Regions from separate parts of the Homo sapiens genome. Here region 1 is linked to region 2. Evidence: fine-mapped expression QTL. A gene starts in region 2. The other region holds a variant in brackets. All regions are shown on one strand. Distances are between the middles of the regions. Region 1 overlaps PCCB (propionyl-CoA carboxylase subunit beta). Region 2 holds the start of PCCB (propionyl-CoA carboxylase subunit beta).

Evidence for each region. PIP is the estimated chance that this variant, and not a neighbour inherited with it, causes the effect.
Region 1: its variant is fine-mapped to the expression of PCCB in whole blood (TOPMed, PIP 0.92).

What each region holds. Positions count from the first base shown.
Region 1 is chr3:136,303,107-136,315,812 of GRCh38, forward strand. The region is part of intron 9 of PCCB (propionyl-CoA carboxylase subunit beta); the gene reads left to right. Among named protein-coding and RNA genes, the nearest start is that of PCCB, 59 kb to the left of the region's middle. The variant A/G (reference allele first, on the strand shown) is at 5,601.
Region 2 is chr3:136,242,495-136,255,200 of GRCh38, forward strand. PCCB (propionyl-CoA carboxylase subunit beta) reads left to right here and starts at 7,846. Exons shown (of 15, transcript NM_000532.5): 1 at 7,846-8,064. The coding sequence starts at 7,882. RefSeq lists enhancers at 7,485-8,351, 7,581-7,640, 8,271-8,320.

The sequences.
Region 1 (12,706 bases), 61 kb after region 2:
ATCTTTCCAGTTATTTTACATGTCATTTCTTTCCTTGTCTTGCATTGGCTACAACTCCCTATATGTCAAATGTAATGGTGAATCATAGTTGTGATTCTGGGCATCTTTGTATTGTTTGTAAGTTTAGCAAGACTGCTGTCAGTGTTTCCTAATTTATATCTTTTTTCATGTTGAAGCTACTACTGGCTTCTGTTTTAAATATTTTTGTTGTTGTTTATTTTGTTCTTAAAGTTAGGAATGAGTGTTGAATATTGTTGAATGCACTTTCAGTGTTTTTGGAGATGATCATGTGATTTTCTTCCTTAGATCTATTTATAAATCTATCCTAGTAGATTTCTGAATACTAAACTTCCTTCATTCCTGAAGTTGTATATTCTGTTTGCTAATGTTTTGAGTTTCTGCATTGATATTATGTGATACTAGTGCGTATATTTTAAGGTATTTTAAAATCAGGTTTTGGTATCGATGTTGTATTTGCTTTACTTATTTATTTATTTAAAAAAAATTTTTTTTTGAGACAGAGTTTTGCTCTTGTCACCCAAGCTGGAATGCGGTGGCACAATCTCTACTCACTGCAACCCCTGCCTCCTGGGTTCAACCAATTCTCCTGCATCAGACTCCCAAGTAGCTGGGATTACAGGCGAGCCCTACCATGTCCGGCTAATTTTTGTACTTTTAGTAGAGACACGGTTTCGCCATGTTGGCCAGGCTGGTCTTGAACTTCTGACCTCAGGTGATCCACCTGCCTTGGCCCCACAAAGTGCTGGGATTACAGGTGTGAGCCACCGTGCCTGGCCTGTATTTGCTTTATGTATTAGTGTTCTAGTGCTGCCATAAGAAAATACCATAAACTGCATAGCTTAAACAACAGAAATTTATTTTCTGTCAGTTCTGGAGGCTAGAAGTCCAAGATCATGGTGTTGGCAGGGTTGGCTTCATTCTGAGGTCTGTGTCTCTTTGGCTTCTGGACTACACTCTTGCTGTGTCCTCACGAGGTCTTTGCTCTCAGTGCATGCAGAAAGAGATCTCTGGTATCTCTTCGTCTTTTTTTTTTTTTTTTCCCTCAGAGACAGGGTCTTGCTTTGTCACCCAGGCTGGAGTGCAGCGGTGTGACTTTGACTCACTGCAGGCTTGACCTCCTGTGCTCAAGTGATCTTCCCACTTCAGCCTCCTGAGTAGCTGGGACTATAGCTGCATGCCACCACATCTGGCTAATTTTAAAATTTTTTGTAGAGATGGCAACTCACTATGTTGCCCAGGCTGGCTTTTCCAATTATTTATTTATTTTTTTTTGAGTTGGAGTCTGGCTCTGTCGCCCGGGCTGGAGTGCAGTGGCGTGATCTCGGCTCACTGCAAGCTCTGCCTCCCGGGTACACGCCATTCTCCTGCCTCAGCCACCCAAGTAGCAGGGACTACAGGCACCCACCACCATGCCTGGCTAATTTTGTTTTTGTATTTTTAGTAGAGACGGGGTTTCACCGTGTTAGCCAGGATAGTCTCGATCTCCCGACCTCGTGATCTGCCCGCCTTGGCCTCCCAAAGTGTTGGGATTACAGATGTGAGCCACTGTGCCCGGCTGGCTTTCCAATTCTTTTCTTTTTTTTGAGATGGAGTCTCACTCTGTCGCCAGGCTGGAGTGCAGTGGCACAATCTCAGCTTAGTGCAACCTCTGCCTCCCGGGTTCAAGTGATTCTCCTGCCTCAACCTCCTGAATAGCTGTGATTTCAGGCACCCGCCACCACGCTTGGCTAATTTTTGTATTTTTAGTAGAGACGGGGTTTCACCATGTTTGCCAGGATGGTCTTGATCTCCTGACCTCATGATCCGCCTGCCTCGGCCTCCCAAAGTGCTGGGATTACAGGCATGAGCCACGGGCGCCAACCCAGCTTTTCCAATTTTTAAAAGAATTCCAGTCCTAACAGATTAGGGTCCCCCTCTTATGGCCCCGTTTAACTTTAATTACCTCTGGAACATCCCTCTCTCCAAATTCACTTTTTTTTTTCTTTGAGACAGAGTCTAACTCTGTTGCCCAGGCCAGTGTGCAGTGGCGAGATCACGGCTCATTGCAACTTCCACCTTCCAGGTTCAGGAGATGCTTCTGCCTCAGCCTCTCAAGTAGCTGGGATTACAGGTGTGTGCCACCATGCCTGGCTAATTTTTGTATTTTTAGAGATGGGGTTTCGCCATGTTGGCCAGGCTGGTCTCAAACTCCTGGCTTCAAGTGATCCACTTGCCTCGGCCTCCCAAACTACTGGCATTAGAGGTGTAAGCCACTGCACCTAGACCATATATTTACTTTTAACTCAAAAAGTATTGTATTATTACACTTTTTTATTTTGCTTTTTAAAAAAACTTCTTCTGGCCGGGCGTGGTGGCTCATGCCTGTAATTCCAGCACTTTGGGAGGCTGAGGCGGGTGGATCACTTGAGGTCAGGAGTTCGAGACCAGCTTGACCAACACGGTGAAAACCTGTCTCTATTGAAAATACAAAAATTAGCCGGGTGTGGTGGTGTGTCCCTGTAATCCCAGCTACTGGAGAGACTGAGGCAGGAGAATCACTTAAACTGGGGAGGCACAGGTTGCAATGAGCTGAGATTGCACCATTGCATTTCAGCCTGGGCGATGAGTGAAACTGTCTCTAAAAAAAAAAAAAAAGAAAGAAAAAAAGTGAATATGCTAGAAAAGAGTCAAAGCAGTGACTTTAGAAGCTACTTAAGAGTGCACACACAAATCAATACGGTAGTCAGGGGAAGGCATTACTTCTGGGGAAGAAGAGTACAAAGGAAAGAGAGAGGTACCTTTGGAAATTGTGAAGGGAAAATGAAGCAAGGGGGTTACATTTATGTACCTGCAAGACATACAAAATCGAATACACTGAAGGACACTACATCTTTCCCCATCACCCTCCCTAAAATTAGTCACCCATGAACTAAACTGCACTTTGCTATACTGACAGAAGAGGGTGCTCTTGAACTAGGATTTTTGTTCATTTGTTCATCTGCCAGCTTTGGAGAATGCAGATACAAATAGTTTTCATTTATATAAAGCTACAATAAGAAAACAAAAAGTGAGAATGAAACATGTCAGTTGATGGAACTCCCTTCACTGTAAAAGTCAATCATGAAGCAGCTGACTATGCTTCAATCTGAGTGCAGTAGCCCCTGATAAGCATTTGAGGTTGTAAAAATAGAAAATTCAGAAACTAATGACAAGATGGAGAGATAATAGTAAGAAGTTAAAGCTGATTGAATTAAGAAAATGGGCAGGGGAGACAAAATTGCATCAGAAATGATATCAAAATTGCAAGGTGCTCAAAGGAGAATGTATTTCAATGAAAATTTAATAAGGAACATTAAAGAAAAGTAGATAAATAGCCTAAAAAATGAATGAAATAATATAAAAAAGTAAAAGTAGATTTTACATTCTCACCACAAAAAAGTATGTGAGGTGGTGGATATGTTAACTAGCTTTAGTCATCCTACACTGTATACATATATGAAAACATGTACGTTGTACATATATGCAATTATAAAATTTTAAAATAGTACAGATACCTTTAATACAATTATTGGTTATATTGTCACATCTGGGATTAATTTTTTAAAATTCTTAGTTAAATGTATGAGAAAAAAGTGACTACAATGAAAGGCAAAGAAGAATGAACATACATATAATTGGAGTGTCTGAAGAAAAACCAGTAGAACAGACTTAATATTTAAAACTGTAATCCAAGAAAATAGTCCAGAAATAAAATAAGATTCAGATTTATATAATGAAAGAGCACACTGAGCACGTGGGAAAATTGACCCAGAATTGTCAAACTAGAGAAAATATTAACTGTTCGATTTTTAAAATAAGGAGAAATACTCAGGACCTTTGGGCAGAAATCAAATGACTTACAAGGGCAAGAGAATAAAATGGCATCCAACTTCTCCAAAGCAACGTAGAAAAGCAAGGAAACAACAGAAAAGCACTTTCAGGAGGCTGAAGGAAAGAATCTGTGACTAAGGATTTTATGTTTAGCAAAGCTCACCTTCATGTATTAAGACTGCAGAAAACCAGTTTTAAACCAAGAACCGAGGGAAGTTTGTGTTAATGAGGCTTTCTTGAGGAATCTACTAGAGAATGAGCTTTATCCAATCAAGAGGTAGCTGGAGAAATTTCAACAAAAGGATTGGTAGTGATTATCTAATATACTTAATTATAATTCTAAGACTAAAACAGAAGTGGGGATGAGGGTAGAGAACAATGTATAAGTACTATATGTTTAGTTTCAGAAAAAAATGCAACTGAAAAATGGGAGGAGAAGAGAGGGGAAGAATATTGCAGAATCAGCTCACTGATTATTGTTAGCTAACAGATATCATTAAAAACAAACTAGTTAATAAAAGATTAAGGAAATGAACTAAAGGCATCAAAAGGCATAATTACAAAGGTAACCACTAGACTAAAAAATACAAACATTCTTTAATACTACTCACATAAACAGTATATATCATTGTGGGTAATGATAAAGGGGAAAAATAAAAAAAAAGGTAAAAGACAATAAATATAGAATACATAGTAATTATAAAAAATAATATGACAGGCCAGGCGTGGTGGCTCATGCCTGTAATTCCAGTACTTTGGGAGGCTGAGGCGAGCAGATCACCTGAGGTTGGAAGTTTGAGACCAGCCTGACCAACATGGAGAAACCCTATCTCTACTGAAAATACAAAATTAGCCAGGTGTGGTGGCACATGCCTGTAATCCCAGCTACCCGGGAGGCTGAGGCAGGAGAATCGCTTGAACCCAGGAGGCAGAGGTTGTGGTGAGCCGAGATTGCACCATTGCACTCAAGCCTGGGCAACAAGAGTGAAACTCCATCTCAAAATAATAATAATAATAATAATAATATGATAGTAAAAAAGTGTCATACCAATAAATATGGATGGGTTTGATTCACTTGTTAAAAATATGTCTAATTTGTTATGGACCAATTATATTCAGTATATAAATGTGATTCAGAAAGGCTAAAAATAAGGAATGGGCAGAAATATACTGGGAGAATGGAAACAATAACAGCAGTATTTGTGACACTAATATTGAACAGAGTAAAGTTCAGGTATTAACCATAATAAGGAAGGACTTTTTTTTTTTTTTTTTGATATGGAGTCTCACTCTGTAACCCAGGCTGGAGTGCTGTGGCACAATCTCAGCCCACCGCAACTTCCACCTCCCAGGTTCAAGTGATTCTCCTGCCTCAGCTTCCCAGGAAGGACATTTTCAACTGCTAAAAGCCATAGTTCACAATGATAATGTAAAGCATATCGAATATCTGTGCCAGAAATAACCACCATCTTTATAAAGCTGAAACTATAGGAGATTCAACAGACTTAGGTAGAAAGACTGAATAGGAGATGTATACACAGCATTGTTATTACAAAGCAGGTCAAATGGACAAAAGTAATAATTTAGGAGACCTAAATAACGTAATAGGTAGATCTTACACATTTCTTTTGGACTTTACACCCTGGTAATGAACAATAAATCTTATTCTGAAGTGCACATGGAATATTCACAAAAGTTGATCATATGTATTAGATCAGAAAGAAAACATC[A/G]TTAAATCCCATAGAGCAAAAAATACTGTGAAACAACATTGCTTAAAATTAGAAACTTTTGTAGCAACTAAAACAAAAGTAGCCTCCAGCCGGGAAATAAATCTTCTAGTAAACAATTCTTGGATGAAAGGGGAAAATAGAAACCAAATGACAGAATTCTAAAAGAAAAAAAGACAAAACACTATGTGTCAAAACCTATAGAATATGTTTAAAACGATGAACAGATGAAAATCTGTTTCCTGAAACAGTAAAAATCAGAGAAGGAAAATAAACAGGCCAGGTGCGGTGGCTCACACATGTAATCCCAGCACTTTGGGAGGCCGAGGCAGGTGGATTGCTTGAGCTCAGGAGTTTGAGACCAGCCTGGGCAACACGGTGAAACCCCGTCTCTACTAAAATACAAAAAATTAGCTAGGCATGGCGGCATGTGCCTGTAATCCCAGGTACTCAGGAGGCTGAGACAGGAGAATCGCTTGAACCTGGGAGGCAGAGGTTGCAGTGAGCCCAGATCGTGCCACTGCACTCCAGCCTGGGTGACAGAGCAAGACTCCATCTCAAAAAAAAAAAAAAAAAAGAAAAGAAAAACAGATTCCCAACTGGAAAAGCCAGGGGAAAAAACCCTGTAAAATATTTCAGAATAAATCCAAGAAATAATTTAATAAGGATAAATGCAGAAATTTATGATGGAAATAGAAGAATAGCTGCAATTAGTAAACACTGGCTAACTTCAAAAAAGAGACAGTAAAAGCAGAAGTATGAAGTGAGAAAGGGAATAACCATTGAAAAAGAAGAAACTTAAGAATCGTTAAGAGGCCAGGTGTGGTGGCTCATGCCTATAATCCCAGCACTTTGGGAGGCTGAGGTGGGAGGATCGCTTGAAGCCAGGAGTTGAAGACCAACCTGGGCAACATAGTGAGTCCCTGTCTCTACAAAAATTTTTAAAGTTAACTGGGTGTGGTGGCATGCACCTATAGTCCCAGCTACTTGAGAGGCCTCAGTGTAGGAGAATTGCTAGAACACAGGAGTTCAAGGCTGTAGTGAGCTGTGATTGCACCATCATACTCCAGCCTGGGCAACATAGTGAGACCCTGTCTCAAAAAAAAAAAAAATTCTAAGAGACAAGATACATTGGAAAATTTGTTTGGAAAACACAGTTTAACAGAAATTGATCCCATCAGAGATAGGAAGCTTAAATGAACCACCAAATTCCACGGAAGGAATTACTTCACCAAAAAGCACAAGGAGCTGGATTCAGTGGCTCATGCCTATAATCCCAACATTTTGGGATGCTAAAACGGGAGGATTGTTTGAGCCCAGGAATTTGAGACCAGCCTGGGCAACATGACGAAACTCTGTCTCTACAAAAAATAAATTAGGGCCAGGCAAGGTGGCTCACACCTGTAATCCCGCACTTTGGGAGGCCGAGGTGGGCGGATCACCTGAGGTCGGGAGTTCGAGACCAGCCTGACTAACATGGAGAAACCTCGTCTTTACTAAAAATACAGAATTAGCCAGGTGTGGTGGTACATGCCTGTAATCCCCGCTACTCGGGAGGCTGAGGCAGGAGAATTGCTTGAACCCAGGAGGCGGAGGTTGCGATGAGCCAAGATCGTGCCATTGCACTCCAGCCTGGGCAACAAGAGCGAAACTCCATCTAAAAAAAAAAAAAAGCCAGGCATGGTGGTATGCACCTGTAGTCCCAGCTACTGGGGAGGCCAAGGTGGGAGTTCACTTGAGCCCAGGAAGTTGAGGGAGCAGTTAACCATGTTTGTGCCACGGCACTCTACCCTGGGTGACAGAGCAAGACTCTGTCTCAAACAAACAAACACCAGGCCCAAATAGTTTCATGTGGAATTTCTGAGACCTTTAAGGGCCAAATAGTCCTAGTGCCACATAAATTCTTCCAGAGCATAGAAAGTAAACAAAACACACAAGAACCTTCCAAAATTTTTTAAAAGAAGTATGATATCAGTACCTGAACCTGATAAAGGTAGTACTTAAGATTTCAGTTTCATATTGCTTATTTCTTTAAAATTATATCTGTGGCCTACTGGGATGTATTCTAGGAATGCAAGATTGGTTCTAGGAAACTCAATAATATACTGTATTAACACATATAGGGGAGAAAAATCACAATTATTTATATAGACGCTGAAGAAAACCTTTAAGAAACATCAATACCTATTCCTGATAGACTTCATAAAATAGGAATTAATACTTTCTTAATGTAATAAAATTTGGTATAGACCTTTTCAAAAGCCTGCATCTCACCTAATAAAGACTAGCTTCTACTAGGATTAGGAACAAGTATAGGATGCCCATTATTCCCATTATTATTTAACATTGTTCTGGAAATATTAACCAATACAGTTATCCAAGAAGAGGACCAATTAGAGACAAAAGCCTTGGGAGAGATGTCAAGCTGTAACGTAGGTGATATAGTATTGTAGTATTCAAGAAAACTCTAGAGAATGCATTATTATACTAAAACAATACTTGAGGAACAGGATACAAAATTAACATATAGAAATCTTCATATACGCAAGCAGTAACCAATTATGGTAGAGTAAAAGCCTCTCTTACATAGCAACAGGAAGATAAAATATTTAGTAATAATTTTAACAGGAATGTACAGAAGCTGTTTTAGGGCAAATTTATTTTTTTAGACAGGGTTTCACTCTGTCACCCAGGATGGAGTGCAGTGACCCAGTCACAACTCACTGCAGCTTCAACTTCCTGGTCAAGCAATCCTCCCACATTGCCAGGACTACAGGCATGCATCACCACACACACCTGATTTAATATTTTTTTTTTTGTAGGAAGAATTCCTGCTATGTTGCCCAGGCTGGTCTCGAACTCTTGGGCTCAAGCGATCCTTCTGCCTTGGCCTTCCAAAGTGCTGGGATTTTAGGTGTGAGCCCCCAAGCCCAGCCCAGGGTGATCTTAAAAACACTTTTGAAAATCAAAAGTAGGCCAGGCATGGTGGCTCACACCTGTAATCCCAGCACTTTAGGAAGCTGAGGAGGGAAGATCCTTTGAGCCCAGGAGTTTGAGACCATCCTGGGCAACATAGTGAGACCTTGTCTGTACAAAACAAAACATTAAAATAGACTTGAACAAATGGAAAGACATTCCTTGTTCCTGGGGTTAATGTTATTAACAAACTGGTGATTCTTAAGTTGTTCTATAAATTTAAGGCAATCCCAATAAACAGTTTTTAAAAACTAGAACTAGATAAGTTTATACAAAAGTGCACATGGAAAAATAAAAGTGCAAGAATACCTAAGAATATACTGCAAAAGAAAAGCTGTAAGTGGGGACTAGCCATGCTTTATATTACAGCATCCTATAGTTAAAACTGTGGTACAGGCACATAAATAGACCAGTGGAATAGAATAAAAGAGCCAGAAATAGACTCAAGTACATACAGAATTTTAGTACAGTCACGCGTTGCGTAACAACAGGGATGTGTTCTGAGAAATGCATCATTAGGCAGTTTCTTTGTGCGACCATCATAGAGTGTACTTCCACAAACCTAGATGGTATAACCTATTACACACCTAGGATCTGTGGTATAGTCTGTTGCTCTTAGGCTGCAAACCTGTATAGCACGTTACTGTACCAAACACTGTATGCAGTTGTAACACAATGGTAAGTATGTATCTAAACATAAAAAGGGTACAGTAAAAATAGGGTATTACAATAGGACCACCTTCCTATAGGCAGTTTGTCATTGACCAGAACCTCTTTGTGTAGTGCCCAACTGTATATGATAATGATATTTTATCAAATCTCAGGGGCAAAAATTAGCTTTTAATAAATGATGCTGGGGCAACTGACTAGCCATTTAGGAAAATATAAAATTAGATTCATACTTTACACCATGTACAAAAATAAACTACAAATGGGTCAGAAAACTAAATATAATCTGTGAATCCATACAAGCACTAAAAGAAAACACAGATGAATTCCTCTGAAACCTTAGGGGAAGGTTTAGAAATGCTTTTGAACTGTAACTCAACTAGTTTCAGTGAAAGATAGACAAAGCTGACTGTGAAAATTTTAAAATCCCACTCTTCATAGCAAAAAACTATAAATAAAATCAAAAGGCAACCAATATGCTAGAAGAAACTCTTGGCAGCATGTATCCCAGAGTATGAATATTCTTAATAAAGAGCTCTTATGCTGAGGGATTAACAACCAAAATTGATAGAAAAGTGGGCAAAAAACCACGGATAGATAGCTCACAAAAAAGATATAAAATGGACCTTAAACATGTCAAAAGATTTTCAACTTCATACATAATGCTAGAAATACAAATTCAAATTACACTGAGTATTTTCTCATATGTTAGATTGGCTAAAAATAAAAACCCCGAAAACACTTTCCATTGGAAAGTCAGTGGAGAAGCAGGCACTCCTGTGCATTGCTGGTAGGGGACTCTGGTATTATCCAGGACTAAATTAGCATTTGCCCTTTAACTCAGCAATCCCATTCCTAGCAATTTACCCTGAAGATACACTTCCCACCATACAAAATTATAGATGTACGAGGTTACGACCATTACGTTGTCATTTGTAATTGCGAGATACTCTAAATAACCTAAATGTAAATTTTAAAATAATGTAAGCCACGTGTAGATTGGTTGAATAAACTTTGGTACATCACACAGTACAGTACTATGCAGAAGTGAAAAAGAATGATGATCTCTATGAACTGATAGGAAGTGATTCCCAGGACATATTAAGTGAAAAAATTCAAAGTGCAAGAGTGTCTGTACTGTTACTTTCCATGTAAGAAGGGTAAATTAAAAGATACAAATGCAAACACACACATAATACATCAGAAAATAATGAGATTAATAACAGGGTAGGTGGGACTAGGGTGGAAGGGATGGGGAAGGAACACTATTAAACTGTATTAGTATTTTACATATTAAAAAATAAAATCAAGACTGGGGAAAACCTTTAAAATGAAATACAAACATGAACCTGTTTTAAATGAGTGTCTTTTGAACCTATATTTTGACTATATACCTTTAATCTAAAGACCAAAATAGCTGTAAAAAAATTCTAGCTAGTAGGTCTGTTTTTTGTAGCTAAGTTAGCAGTTCTGAAACCATTTTCTCTGTATTTGAGGATCGAATAAATAAGTACATTTTGAGGGTAGTAGCAGCCAGATTCTGCTATCGGAGAAGGGAGTTGTGAATATGGCAAGAGAAAAAAATCTAGAATGAACCCTATAGTTGCACTGGAGTAGGATTAGAATTATCAGCATGAACTCATGGTTTTTCATATAGCTGGACTTTGGACGTTTTAGAAGGAGTCACACACACACACACATCCCTAAAAGGAACCCAGGCCTTTTGGAGAAATGGCTGATTGTAGGGCTGGGGCAGGAAAGAAACCAAGATGAACCAGAAAGTAAGATACTTCCAAAATATAAGGTAGTGCTCAAAGAATGATGGGGACACTTTAGAAGGACACAGGAACCAGCATGAAGGAACTTTGGTAAATATAGGACAATTTAAACATAAAATGATGGTGAAAGATTATAATCCATAGAATAAAACAATCTATAAGTTCATATTGATACCTATAAGTAAATGGGAAAGGCAAAGATCTTTCTTGTGGTAGATGTCAGCTAATAAATGGAGAAGAAAAGTGGAATTGGAAAACTCACCCTTTGGGCTGGGTGTGGTGGTTCACACTTGTAAGGAGGGCGGATTGCTCGAGCTTCGGAGTTTGAGCCCAGCCCGGCCAATACGGTGAAACCCTGTCTCTACTAAAAATACAAAAATTAACCAGGTATGGTGGCATGAACCTGTGGTCCCAGCTGCTTGGGAGGCTAAGGTGGGAAGATCGCTTGAGCCTGGGAGGTGGAGGTTGCATCGAGCTGAGGTTGCTCCACTGCACTCCCACCTAGGTGGCAGAGTAAGACCCTGTCTCAAGAAAAACAAAAACAAAAACAAAAAAACAAAACAAAAAAACTCACCATTTGGCAGCTATCATGACAGTAATGAGTCAGGCAAGAATCATGGCTGCTTGGTGGCTGCTAGGATGCTAAACCTAGTGGATGAAGAACTAGATTAATGATTAAAGTTTGAAGAACAGGATTTTATGTAGTCTCAACGTATTTCCTCACAAAATTCTTATTAAATTGGAGAAATAGTAACTTTACAAGGAAACCTGCAGATATCACCATCATTAATGGACAAATCAACACATTGTGCCACTTGATGAGAATGCTCCTTCTGTGGTACTCCTGTGGAAAGGCTTAGCTCAAAATTAAACATGAAGAAATACCAAAGGAACCCAAATAGAAGTCATGCTTTACAAATTAACTGGTCTGTTGTCTTCAAAGATGTCATGATTATGAAAGACAAAGATGGAGGGGGAAAGTTAAAGGAGCCTAAAGAGATATAACCACTAAAAGCACCAGGTGATCCTGGCTCAGGTTCTGGACCAGAATTTTGTTGCTTGTGCTGCTATAAAGGATACTATTGGAACAATTGGCAAACTTGAATAATGTCATATAATAAGAAATAGTGGCCGGGCGCGGTGGCTCACGCCTGTAATCCCAGCACTTTGGGAGGCCGAGGTGGGCGGATCACGAGGTCGAGATCGAGACTATTCTGACCAACATGGTGAAACCATCTCTAAAAATACAAAAAAATTAGCTGGGCATGGTGGTGCGTGCCTGTAGTCCCAGCTACTCGGGAGGCTTAGGAGAATTGCTTGAACCCAGGGGGCGGAGATTGCAGTGAGCCGAGATCGTGCCACTGCACTCCATCCTGGGCAGCTAAGCGAGACTCCGTCTCAAACAAACAAAAGAAAATTGTGAATTGGGCACAGTGGCTCATGCCTGTAATCTCAGCACTTTGGGAGGCTGAGGCAGGTGGATTGCGTGAGGCCAAGAGTTTGAGACCAGCCTGCGCAACATAGCAAGACCCTGTCTCTACAAAAAATATAATTTTTTTTTTTTGGTGGCATATACCTGTAGTCCTAGCTACTTGGGAGGCTGAGGTGAGAGAATTGCTTGAGCCCTGGAGGTTAAGGCTGCAGTGAGCTGTGATCATGCTTCTGCACTCCAGCCTGGGTCACAGA
Region 2 (12,706 bases):
TGGGAATAGGGTCTTTGCAGATATAATTAAGTTAAGGATTTCTAAATGAGGTCATCTTAAATTTAGGATGGGCCCTAAATTCAATGACTGGTGACTCATAAGAAAAAGGGGAGGCTGGGCACAGTGGCTCACGCTTGTAATCCCAGCACTTTGGGAGGCCAAGGCAGGCGGATCACGAGGTCAAGAGTTCAAGACCATCCTGGCCAACATGGTGAAACCCCATCTCTACTAAGAATACAAAAACTAGCTGGGCGTGGTGGCACATGCCTGTAGTCCCAGCTACTCGGGAGGCCAAGGCAGGAGAATCACTTGAACCCAGGAGGCAGAGGTTGGAATTAACTGAGATCATGCCACTGCACTCCAGCCTGGTGACAGAGCGAGACTCCATCTCAAAAAAAAAAGAAAAAAGAACAAAAGAAAAAGGGGAGAGAGGTCACAGATACCAGGATACTGGGAAGAAGGCCACACAAAGATGGAGGTAGAGATGGCTGTCATGATGCCACAAAACAAGGAACACCAGAGCTTCCAGAAGCTGGAAGAGGCAAGAAAGGATTCTGCCCTGGAGCCTTTGGAGAGAGCATAGCCCTCAAGACATCTTGATTTTGGACTCCTGGTTCCCCAAACCATGAGAGAACGCATTTCTGTTGTTTTACCACTAACTTTGCGGTAATTTGCTACAGCAGCCCAAGGAAATTAAAATACCTAGCATAATTTCTGTGAGTTCTGCCAGCTACCATGGGCAGTCTGTTAGCAGAATCAGAGTGATCCAAAAGAAGGCTTGGGCCAAGGCATGGTGATCTAAATGGAAATTCAAGGGCTTGAGGGAGGCCAGTAGGCAGAATGAGGGAATTAAAAGGTTACACGGAAAGGATGGACCAGATTCAGTGTGAAGGGCGTGGGAAAGGTAGCAGAAAAGGAGGTGGTAGAGAGAACTGCCAGGTTCCACTCCTAGACGTGAAGCAATTCTCAGTAATTACAAAGCCCAGTGTGTGGGTGGCTGGAGTGGAACAGAGTTGAAGTCCCTTCATGTTGAGGAGGCTAAGGAATTCCTAGGCCATAGAATCAGAGGGTATCAGCATGAAGACTCTGAATGGAGTCTGAGAATGGCAGTGGAAGACAGGGAAGGGGAAAAGTGAGCCTGATGTGGAAATCACAGGACAAGGGAGAGGAGGGCATGTGGTGGAGGTCAGGGGAATGCTGAAAGGGTGGTACCAACAGAGGGTAAAAACGGCAAGTGAAAAGCAGCTCAGCAAGAATAGAAACTGTGGCCGGGCACGGCCTGGCGTGGTGGCTCACGCCTGTAATCCTAGCACTTTGGGAGGCCGAGGTGGGCAGATCACGAGGTCAGGAGATCGAGACCATCCTGTCTAATATGGTGAAACCCCATCTCTAATAAAAATACAAAAAAAATTAGCTGGATGTGGTGGCGGGCGCCTGTAGTCCCAGCTACTCGGGAAGCTGAGGCAGGAGAATGGCATGAACCCGGGAGGCGGAGTTTGCAGTGAACCGAGGTGGTGCCACTGCATTCGAACCTGGGTGACAGAGCGAGACTCCGTCTCAAAAAAAAAAAAAAAAAAAATAGAAACAGCTAGAAGCAGCTCTGGAAAAAGGAACAAACCAGCTCTGCTCTTTCTTTTTTTTTGAGATGGAGCCTGGCTCTGTGGCCCAGGCTGAAGTGCAGTGGCACAATCTTGGCTCACTGCAAGCTGCGCCTCCTGGGTTCACGCCATTCTCCTGCCTCAGCCTCCTGAGTAGCTGGGACTACAGGCATCTGCCACCACGCGTGGCTAATTTTTTTTTTATTTTTAGTCGAGACAGGGTTTCACCATGTTAGCCAGGATGGTCTCGATCTCCTGACCTTGTGATCCGCCTGCCTCGGCCTCCCAAAGTGCTGGGATTACAGGCGTGATCCACTGCTACCGGCCTGCGCTTTCCCAGAGAGCCCAGGGAGTCAGAAAAGATAAGGATTTCTCAAGGTGGCTTGGAAAATGTGTGTAGTCTGGGGACAATGAGGTTCCATGTCTTTTAAAATTTTTTAAATTTTATTTCTTTTTAGAGACAGTCTTGCTCTGTCACCCAGGCTGGAATGCAGTGGTGCCATCATAGCTCACTGCAGCCTCAAACTCCTAGGCTCAAGGGATCCTCCTCCCCAAGCCTCTGGAATAGCTGGGACTACAAGTGTGCACCACCATGCCTGGCTAACATTTTAATTTTTTGTAGAGATAATGTCTTGCCATGTTGCCCAGGCTGGTCTCAAACTCTTGGCCTCAAGCAGTCCTCCTACTTTAGCCTCCCCAAGTGCTGGGATTACAGATGTGAGCCACTGCGCATGGCCTAGGCTCCAGGTCTTAATAAGAATTTTAAGTAGAATTTAAGCTAGGACTCTTGGGTTCTAATCTCGGCATCAAAGAAACACAGTTCAGCAATAACAATGTGAATTTTCAACCTGGACAACATAGAGAAACCATTGTCTCTACAAAAAATTAGAAAATTAGGGCCAGGTGTGGTGGCTCACACCTGTAATCTCAGCACTTCAGGAGGCCAAAGCGGGAGGATCTCTTGAGGTCAGGAGTTCAAGGCCAGCCTGGCCAACACGGTGAAACCCCGTCTCTACTAACAATACAAAAAAATTAGGCACAGTGGCACATACCTGTAGTCCTAGCTACTTGGGAGGCTGAGGCAGGAGAATCTCTTGGACCCAGGAGGCAGAGGTTGCAGTGAGCCAAGATGTGCACTCTAGCATTACAGCCTGGGTGACAGAAGGAGACTCTGTCTTAAAAAAAAAAAAAAAAAAAAATTAGCCAGGCTTGGTGGCATCTGCCTGCGGTCCCAGCTATGGGGGAGGCTTAGGTGAAGGATTGCTTGAGCCCAGGAGGTCAAGGCTATAGTGAGCCATGATCACAATGCTGCACTCTAGCCTGGGGAACAGAACAAGACCCTATCTCAAAAAAAGAAAAAATAAAGGTAAACGTAAATTTTAAGCACTTCATTTTTTATTCAGTTAAAACACACACACACATACACACACACACACACCAAGGAGAGAAGTACATAATTAATGCAAAACAAAAATCTTAAAAATCTAGCTGGTATGGTAGCATGTACCTGTAGTCCCAGCTACTCAGGAGGCTGAGTGGGGAGGATCACCTGAGCCCAGGAGTTCAAGGCTGCAGTGAGCTGTGATCCTGCCAATCCGCTCCAGCCTGGGTGACAGAGTGAGACCCTGTCTCAAAAAATAAAAAAAAATCTTTAAAATCTCTTCTCTCCACATGGATGACAGCTATTCTCACAAATTTCCTCTCTCTCACTCCCTTTACTCCTAACCACCCCAAACTCTATTGTGAGAAGACACCTGGACTGTACTGAACATAGTAACTGAGAGCCCCAGCTGTTGCTCTGAAATTCACTGCTGAAATTTGCACTGAGGTTACACCTTCCACGGGCTGCTCCCAGCATAGCTGCGGCAAAAATACTTTGGCTCCTGTACTCCCCAACAACCTTGCTGAACTTTCCTTAAAACTGCACGGTATTCTGAGAAGCTCCCACCCACCTTCCTTCCTTCCCTCTCTTCCTGACTGGAGGTCAGATTTGCATTGCAATCTCATGGGCCTCCCAGCTTCTCCCACTGTCTCCCCACTTTTTCTCACAGGTGGTTCCTCTAACTGATTTCTTTCTTTCTTTCTTTCTTTTGAGATGGAGTCTTGCTCTGTCGCCCAGGCTGGAGTGCAGTGGCGTGATCTCGGTTCACTGCAAACTCCACCTCTCAGGTTCAAGTGATTGTCCTGCCTCAGTCTCCCGAGTAGCTGGGATTATAGGCGTGCGCCACCATGCCTGGCTAATTTTTCTTTTTAGTAGAGATGGGGTTTCACCATCTTGGCCAGGCTGGTCTTGAACTCCTGACCTCAGGTGATCCCCCTGCCTTGGCCTCTCAAAGTGCTGGGATTACAGGAGTGAACCACTGCACCTGGCCCCCTTAATTGATTTCTTGCATGTTAATTCCCCTCTTGGCAATTGCTTCTCTGAAGACCCAGACTAAATTGTGACCTCTTCCATTTCCTCCTTCCTACCATTGCACTCATCTTTGCTGAAAGTTGTAACTGACTGGCCTAGAATGGCCAGAAAATGTTGGCACCTCACTGTCCCCCATCCATCCTCACTCCTTGTGGAAGGAAGTGAACAAATACTCTGAAATGTATCACTGTCCTTCACTTTAAGGAGAACTCATGAAAATTTCTGGTAAATAAGACTATCTCAGGATACTACTGGTAATCTATTAGGTAACACTTAAAGAGTACTTCACATTTGCTAGGCATTATGTTAGCTGCTTACATTTAAACCTTATAACTTGGCCAGGTATGGTGGCTCACATCTGTAATCCCAGCACTTTGGGAGGCTGAGGCAGGCGGATCACTTGAGATCAGGAGTTCAAGGCAAGCCTGGCCAACATGGTAAAACTCCATCTCTACCAAAAAATACAAAAAAATTAGCCGGGCGTGGTGGCACACGCCTGTAATCCCAGCTACTTGGGAGGCTGAGGCAGGAGAATCGCTTTAACCTGGGATGGGGAGGTTGCAGTGAGCCAAGATTGAGCCACTGCACTCCAGCCTGAGTGACAGAGCAAGACCCTGTCTCAAAAATAAATAAATAAATAAATAAAAATAAACCTTACAACTCTGAGGTAGAACTATTATTATTCCAATTTTACAGAAGAGGAAACTGAGGCCAAGTTGTCCAAGTCACACAGAGGTAACTGGCAGAGTTGGAACTAACCTCAGGACAGTCTAACACCAATGACTGGGCTCTTGTTATTATGTCATGGGTAACAAACTCAGAACACAAGGGTTTCACAGATCACCCCCTCTCCACTTTTACAGAGGAAACTGAGATCCTTAGGTGAATGACCCTGTGTTATCCAGGAAGTCAGGGCAGAAGCAAGATTTGTACCCAGGTGTTGACTCCAAATTTTCAGCTCTACTGTCTCAGAAAGTGAGAAAACTAAAAGATCAGGGTGACTCCTGTCTCACAATGGAGAAAAAAACTCAAACACAGCCACCAGCGGGGGGACTAAGGACAGGAAAGCAGCCTGGAGCATAGTGGTATTAAAGGGCAATTACTGGATAATTGCCTCCTACCTCCAACTTCCTCCTACCCCCACCCACCTGCCCCAAGCTGGAGCTTGCATGTGAGGTCTGAGGAATAACATTACAGATCTATAGAACTATGGAGTGCCCATAGGCAGGGCATTAGGACAGTGAGAAAGAAGTGGAGGGAGAGAGGACTAGCTGGAGGAAGCAGTTAGGTTCAGTGAGCCTCCCTGTGTTGGGTTTTCTACTAAGCACTGGTTATCTAAAGTTAAATAAGAAAAACTTCCTTGCTTCTGAGGATCAGGATAGACTGCATGGAGGAGATGATACCTGAGCAGGTTTCAGAGCCTGAAAAGACATAGAGGAGGGGGCGAAAACCTCTGGACTCACATGCAATTGCCTATTTGCTAGCTCGATTCAATTTCACAAATACATTCTAAAGGCCTTCTCTGCGTTGGGCCTTGTTCCAGGTGCTGGGACCACAGTGGTGAGCAAATCAGCTGCAGTCCCTGACCTTTGGCTGGAGAGTCTGTCTAGGAAGACAGCTAAACAATCTTAACACAGTGTGAGATGTGCTTTATGTAAGGAACCTACAAGGCACTGTGGGACAAGGGAGTCCAACTGCCCCCAGGCCAAAAGCAAGTCCCAATTTCTGAACATGAAAAAACTCTTCACAATCTAATGCCATTCTCACTTTCCAGTCTCATTTACCACCATTTCCCCAAAAGCTGGGAACACAACAAAGTATGTGTGTGTGTCTGTGTATGTGAATCTGAACATGCCAGGCCTTTGCTCACACTGCTTCTGTTCCCTGGCATATGGATGCTTTCTTGGAGAAACTCTCCTCAACACACTCAGCCTTACTCAAATTCTCTCTTGTGCTCCCAAGGCAATCTGCCTCTCTAGGTTGTCCATCTGCCTCTCTAGGTTGGTAAAGTCTTTAAAGCAAGGACCCAAATGCAAGGTCAAGAGTACCCATTACGGAGTTATACAGATACAGGTGGGCTTTGCCTAGCCAAGAGGCTTTGGCCTCTAAGCTGCCCTCTCTATCTAGATGAACTGTTACTACTCCAGGAAATGCAATCAGTACTGATGTTTAGTTCTTGGCACATGGTAGGTGCTCAAAAATGTTTTCTGAGTTGAATTGCATTAACATTAAGGTCATAGGTCAGAATTTGTACTTTATGAAGGCCCTGGCTATGAGCTGGATCTGGGAAGGGCTCATGATCAACTTTAGCAGTTTTCTGTGGCTAAAAATGAGAAATATAAACCATGTTCTTTGTCTTGAAGACCTGCCTGTTAGTGGGAGAAACAGATGGTCAAGCTCTCAACAGTACAATTCCAAATTCCTAGAGCAGTGGTTCTTAAACTTTAGCAAGCAGATCAGAATCACCTAAAGGTCATCTGCTAAAACAGATGGCTGGCCCCAGCCCCAGAGTTTCTGATTTAAAGGTCTGGAGTAAGTTCTGAGAATTCGAGCTTGCATTTCCAACTCACTCCCAGGTGATACTGAAGTTGCTGGATTGACAAGATTCCCTCCTTGATCAAACATTGGTCAGGCTCTTCTGAGCTCTCTCTTTGACTAGGCCTGAGTGTGGGCTCCCATGTCATTCCTTGTGGAATTCCATTTTAGCAAGAAACTTGCCAAGTCAGTTTAGCCAGAATCCTCCATTCTTGATATCTGATTACTCTCCATATCTGGTTTTGACCCATACCGCCACCATCCCCCAGGTGATGTTCAGTTACCCTGACCTGCCTTGGGCAGGAATCCTGTTAGGTCAATTTAGCCAGATTCCCCGCCAATGTTTCCTCTTAGTAATTTTCCATCCACTGACTTCCACACACTGCCCCTTAGCTATAAATTACCACTTTGCTATATTCAGCCCAATCGCTCTGACTTATGGCAAAACTCTATCCCTACCTCTGTCAGATTGGGCCTGAATAAAGTTTGCCTTACCATTCTTAAACATGAATAATTAAGTGTCATGAATAGTTTTTTCTTTAATGGGATCCATACTTTGAGAACTACTGATTAGAGGTTAAGGGTCCTGTGCTCATTATCTGGCACATATTAATGATAGGTCTCTGAGTTTGAATCCTGGCCAACCACATTGTCAGTCTTGGCTTTTTTTTTTTTTTTTTTTTGAGACAGGGTTTTGCCCAGGCTGGAGTGCAGTGATGCAATCACGGCTCACTGCAGCCTCGACTTCCTGGGCCAAGCCATCCTGCCGCCTTAGCCTCCCGAGTAGCTGGGGTCACAGGTGCAAGCCGCCATGCCCAGCTAATTTTTAATTTTTTTGTAGAGGTGGGGTCTTACTATATTGCTCAGGCTGGTCTTGGGCTCCTGGGCTCACCTACCTCGGCCTCAGTCTTGCCTCTTGATCAAATCACTCATCTCTCTGTGCTTGATTTACCTCATCTGTGAAATCCAGATAGTAAGCTAGTGCATGGTAAGTGCAAAAAGCAACACCTGGCACAATGCTTAATAAATGTTGGTTAAATCTTATAATCATTTTCTGTAGGAAGTGGGACGACAAAGTTAAGGGTCTAGGTGGTCAGAGAAGAGCAAGGACTATGTCCCTTTTTTGTGCAGCCAGGCAGGCCCTGTACTTTTTCTCTGCGCGACCCTCCTCGGGCAGCACCGGGTCTCGAACTCTCACGCCTTACTCCCAAGCAGGTTCTGTAGTCCAGCCCCCGCGGCTCCCTACAGCCAGCCGATGCTGCGCAAGCGCCGTACCCACGCTTTAGCACATGCGTACTCAGGTGCGCCGGTAGGGGACGCGCCGGCACAGCAAAAATGGCGGCGGCATTACGGGTGGCGGCGGTCGGGGCAAGGCTCAGCGTTCTGGCGAGCGGTCTCCGCGCCGCGGTCCGCAGCCTTTGCAGCCAGGCCACCTCTGTTAACGAACGCATCGAAAACAAGCGCCGGACCGCGCTGCTGGGAGGGGGCCAACGCCGTATTGACGCGCAGCACAAGCGAGTGAGTCCTGAGGGGCCTAAGTGAGTCCCGCCCCTGGCGTCCGCGACCTATCACTGCGTGCCCGGCTTGCGGCGTCCGAGGCCTCCCTGCCAATCCGCACGGTGCCTGGAGGGGCCGGAGCAAGGGTGTTCACCTTGAAAACCTGTAGCGTTTCTCGTGGAGGCGGGTATAACCAGCAGAAGCACCTGTGTGCTTTTTCATACTGTTTAACCCTTGGGATTTAGACGGATCTGGCTCGTCTCTAGCCAGCTCAACACTTAACATAAGCTTTTGGGCAACTTATTAAATCTCTGTGGGTCATTTTAATAATAATTCTTCCTTCACAAGTGTATCGTTAGACCATAGATAGCAAAATGATAGGCGCTCAGTAAAAACCATGTGCTTATTCTCGTGCCCCATGAAAGAGTGATGGTAGGTTCTTTCTCCTTTGTGGAAGCAGGAAAACTGAACTTGGGCATACTCCACTAACATGAAATGGGGGATGTGCGCGTGCAGGAACTTGTGGAACTTCTGCCCGCAGAATGCCTGGTCGAGCTCTTTAGGGCCTTAGCATGCCTCGCCTTGATGGGTAGCAAAGGCACGTGTCGGAAGCAGGTGGCCTTTCTGGGAGTGCGCAGGCTACTCTCGATGTTTGGCTGGACTGAGCAGTTGAAACACTGCCACCCACCGCCTGGGTTTTGAGGCGAGAATCCAGCTGGCCTTCAGAGATAAGCTGGGCGGCCCATTTTGGAGAGGTGATCCCTGACTTGAAACCAGGCTTGCCCAGTGTGTCCGTGACTGGTGGGTGAGTCTGGACCGTTGTGCTGAACGAATTAACCAACGGGAAGGTGCAGAAGTGAAACTCTTACAGATGAAGAGTATTCAGGCACAACTCACAACCATGAGGGAGGCACTGGGGGAGGGATGGGGTCTTAAAGTGAGGAGATTTGAACAGCTCTATATTTGTCTAATATTGATTCAGATGTCATAAATTCGCATTTGACAAGGGTCCAAAGGTAACAGTTCCTTTTGACACTTGAGAGTGAAATGTAAATTTAGTGATGGTTTGTGGTGCTAGGAGTGCTTTCTCTCCCCTGGGGCTACTTCTAACCTACTCTGTTAGGGCTGAGGGAGATGTTAGATCATCCTCTGGAAAGGCCTGTCAGTGCTCCTGTACACTCTTTCTGTTGGGGCCTATTGCTCAATTCTTCCCTGGAACATCGCCTAGCCCTTTCCCAGGTAGATCCTACTAGGTTTAGATGAAGCCTCCAGAAGCTGTTTTTCTTTTGCCAAAGTTAACTTAGGAGGCTGATTTAATATGAACCCCCTCCTGCACCCCTTTTTATTTTTATGTTTTGATACGGAGTTTTGCTCTTGTTGCCCAGGCTGGAGTGCCATGGTGCGATCTTGGCTCATTGCAACCTCTGCCTCCCAGGTTCAAGCTATTCTCCTGCCTCAGCCTCCCAAGTAGCTGGGATTACAGGTGCCCACGACCATGCCTGGCAACTTTTTTTTTGTATTTTTAGCAGAGACAGGGTTTCACCATGTTGGCCAGGCCGGTCTTGTACGCCTGACCTCAAGTGATTCACCCACCTTGGCGTCCCAAAGTGTTGGGATTATGGGTGTGAGCCACTGCACCCGGCCCTGCACCCCTTTTAAAACAATTTTTGACCATTTCCGTAGATTTTCCCAGAAGAGGAATTAGTGGGTCAAAGGGTGTAAGTTTATTTATTTTTTTTGAGACAGAGTTCACTCTGTTGCCCAGGCTAGAGTGCAGCAGCTCACTGCAACTTCTGCTTCCCAGCTTCAAGCAATTCTCCTGCCTCAGCCTCCAGAGTACCTGGGGTTACAGGTATGTGTCACCACATCTGGCTAATTTTTGTATTTTTAGTAGAGATGGAGTTTCACCATGTTGGCCAGGCTGGTCTTGAACTCCTGACCTCAGGTGATCCACCCGCGTCTGCCTCCCAAAGTGCTGGGATGACAGAATTTTTTTTTTTTTTTCCTTGAGACAGGGTCTTACTCTGTCACCCAGGCTGGAGGGCAGTGGTGTAATCATGGCTCACTGCATCCTTGACCTTCTGGGCTCCAGTGATCCTTCCACTTCAGCCTCCTACCCAGCTAATTTTTTTTTTTTTTTTTTTTTGGTAGAGACAGGGTCTCGCTTTGTTGCCCAGGCTGGTCTCAACTCCTGGGCTCAAGCAGTCCTCCCACCTTGGCCTTCCAAAGTGCTGGGATTACAGGTGTGAGCCGCAGTGCCTGGTCAGTATAAATATATTTTAAAAATCTGTATATATGTTGCCAAATTGGTTTCCTGAAAACTTACTCTACTTTACATGACAGTGTATAGGATTGCCTGTTTTTTGTTTTGTTTTTTTTTTTTTAAATGCAACCTCACCAGCTTTGGCTACTTTCCTAAGGGGAAAATAATAGCCAATTTGAGGTATTTTTTGTTTGTTTTTGTTTTTTTCGGGGAGGGGGGGATAGGACAGTAGGCTAGGGTATTTGCCTCGGGTTGAGAGCTTGGGAGTCCAAGCAATGGAGGTTTTTTTTTTTTTTTTTTTTTTTTTAAGATAGAGTCTTGCTCTGTCACCCAGGCTGGAGTGCAGTGGCGCGGTCTTGGCTCACTGCAAGCTCCGCCTCCCGGGTTCATGCCGTTCTCCTGCCTCAGCCTCCTGAGTAGCTGGGACTACGGGTGCCCACCACCACACCTGGCTATAATTTTGGAGTTTTAGTATAGACGGGGTTTCACCATGTTAGCCAGGATGGTCTCGATCTCCTGACCTCGTGATCCGTCTGCCTCGGCCTCCCAAAGTGTTGGGATTACAGGCGTGAGCCACTGCACATGGCCTCTTTTTTTTTCTTAAGACAGGGTCTCACCTTGTTGCTCAGGCTGGAGTGCGGTGGAGTGATCGTGGCTCACTACAACCTCTGCTTCCCAGGTTCAAGTGATTCTCCTGCGTTAGCCTCTTGAGTAGCTGGGATTTAAGGCACGTGCCACCACACCTGGCTAATTTTTGTATTTTTAGTAGAGACGGGGTTTCACCATGTTGAGCAGGCTGGTCTCTAACTTTTGACCTCAGGTGATCCTCCCATCTCGGCCTCCCAAAGTGCTGGGATGACAGAATTTTTTTTTTTTTTTTTTTTTCTTGAGACAGGGTCTTACTCTGTCACCCAGGCTGGAGGGCAGTGGTGTAATCATGGCTTAGTGCATCCTCGACCTCTGGGCTCCAGTGATCCTCCCACTTCAGCCTCCTACCCTGCTAGTTATTTTATTTTATTTTATTTTTTGGTAGAGACAGAGTCTCGCTTTGTTGCCCAGGCTGGTCTCAACTCCTGGGCTCAAGCAGTCCTCCCACCTTGGCCTTCCAAAGTGCTGGGATTACAGGTGTGAGCTGCAGTGCCTGGTCAGTATAAATATATTTTAAAAATCTGTATATATGTTGCCAAGTTGGTTTCCTAAAAACTTATTCTACTTTACGTGACAGTGTATAGGATTGCCTGATTTTTGTTTGTTATTTTAAACACAACCTCACCAGCTTTGGCTACTTTCCTAAGGGGGAAATAATAGCCAATTTGAGGTATGTGGTTTTTTTTGTTGTTGTTGGGGAAGGGGACGGTAGGCTAGGGTATTTGCTTGGGGCTGAGAGCTTGGGAGCCCAAGCAATGGCGGCTTTTTTTTGTTTGTTTTTGTTTTTTGAGACAGTGTCTCACCCTGTCACCCAGGCTGGAGTACAGTGGTGCGATCTTGGCTCACTGCAACCCCTGCCCCCTGGGTTCAAGCGATTCTCTTGCCTCAGCCTCCCGAGTAGCTGGGACTACAGGTGGGTGCTACCAAGCCCAGCTAATTTTTTTTGTATTTTTAGTAGAGATAGGGTTTCGCCGTGTTAGCCAGGATGGTCTCGATCTCCTGACCTCATGATCCGCCTGCCTTGGCCTCCCAAAGTGCTGGGATTACAGGTGTGAGCCACTGCGGCTAGCTTTTTTTTTTTTTTTTTTTTTTTTTTTTTTAAAAGACAGGTTCTCGCTTTGTTGCTCAGGCTGGAGCACGGTGGAGTGATCACAGCTCACCACAACCTCCGCTTCCCAGGTTCAAGTGATTCTCCTGCCTCAGCCTCTTGAGTAGCTGGGATTACAGGCACGTGCCACCACTCCCAGCTAATTTTTGTATTTTTCAGTAGAGACCAGGTTTTGCCATGTTGTCCAGCTGGTCTCAAACTCCTGGGCTCAAGCGATGCTCGTCTCAGCCTCCCAAAGTGCTGGGATTACAGGTGTGAGCCACTGTGCCCAGCCGAGGCTCCTGGTAGATTGAGAGCTCTGACCTCATCTCCTCAAAGAAGCTTTTTTTTTTTTTTGGGACGGAGTTTCACTTTGTTGCCCAGGCTGGAGTGCAATGGTGCACAATCTCGGCTCACTGCAAGCTCTGCCTCCTGGGTTCAAGCGATTCTTCTGCCTCAGCCTCCTGAGTAGCTGGGAAGACAGGCGCATGCCACCACACCCGGCTTATTTTGTATCTTTAATAGAGATGGGGTTTCTCCATGTTGGTCAGGCTGGTCTCGATCTCCTGACCTTGTGATCCACCCGCCTCTGCCTCTCAAAGTGCTGGGATTACAGGCGTGAACCACCGTGCCCGGCCCAAAGAAGCATTTTTAAACTCTTCTCA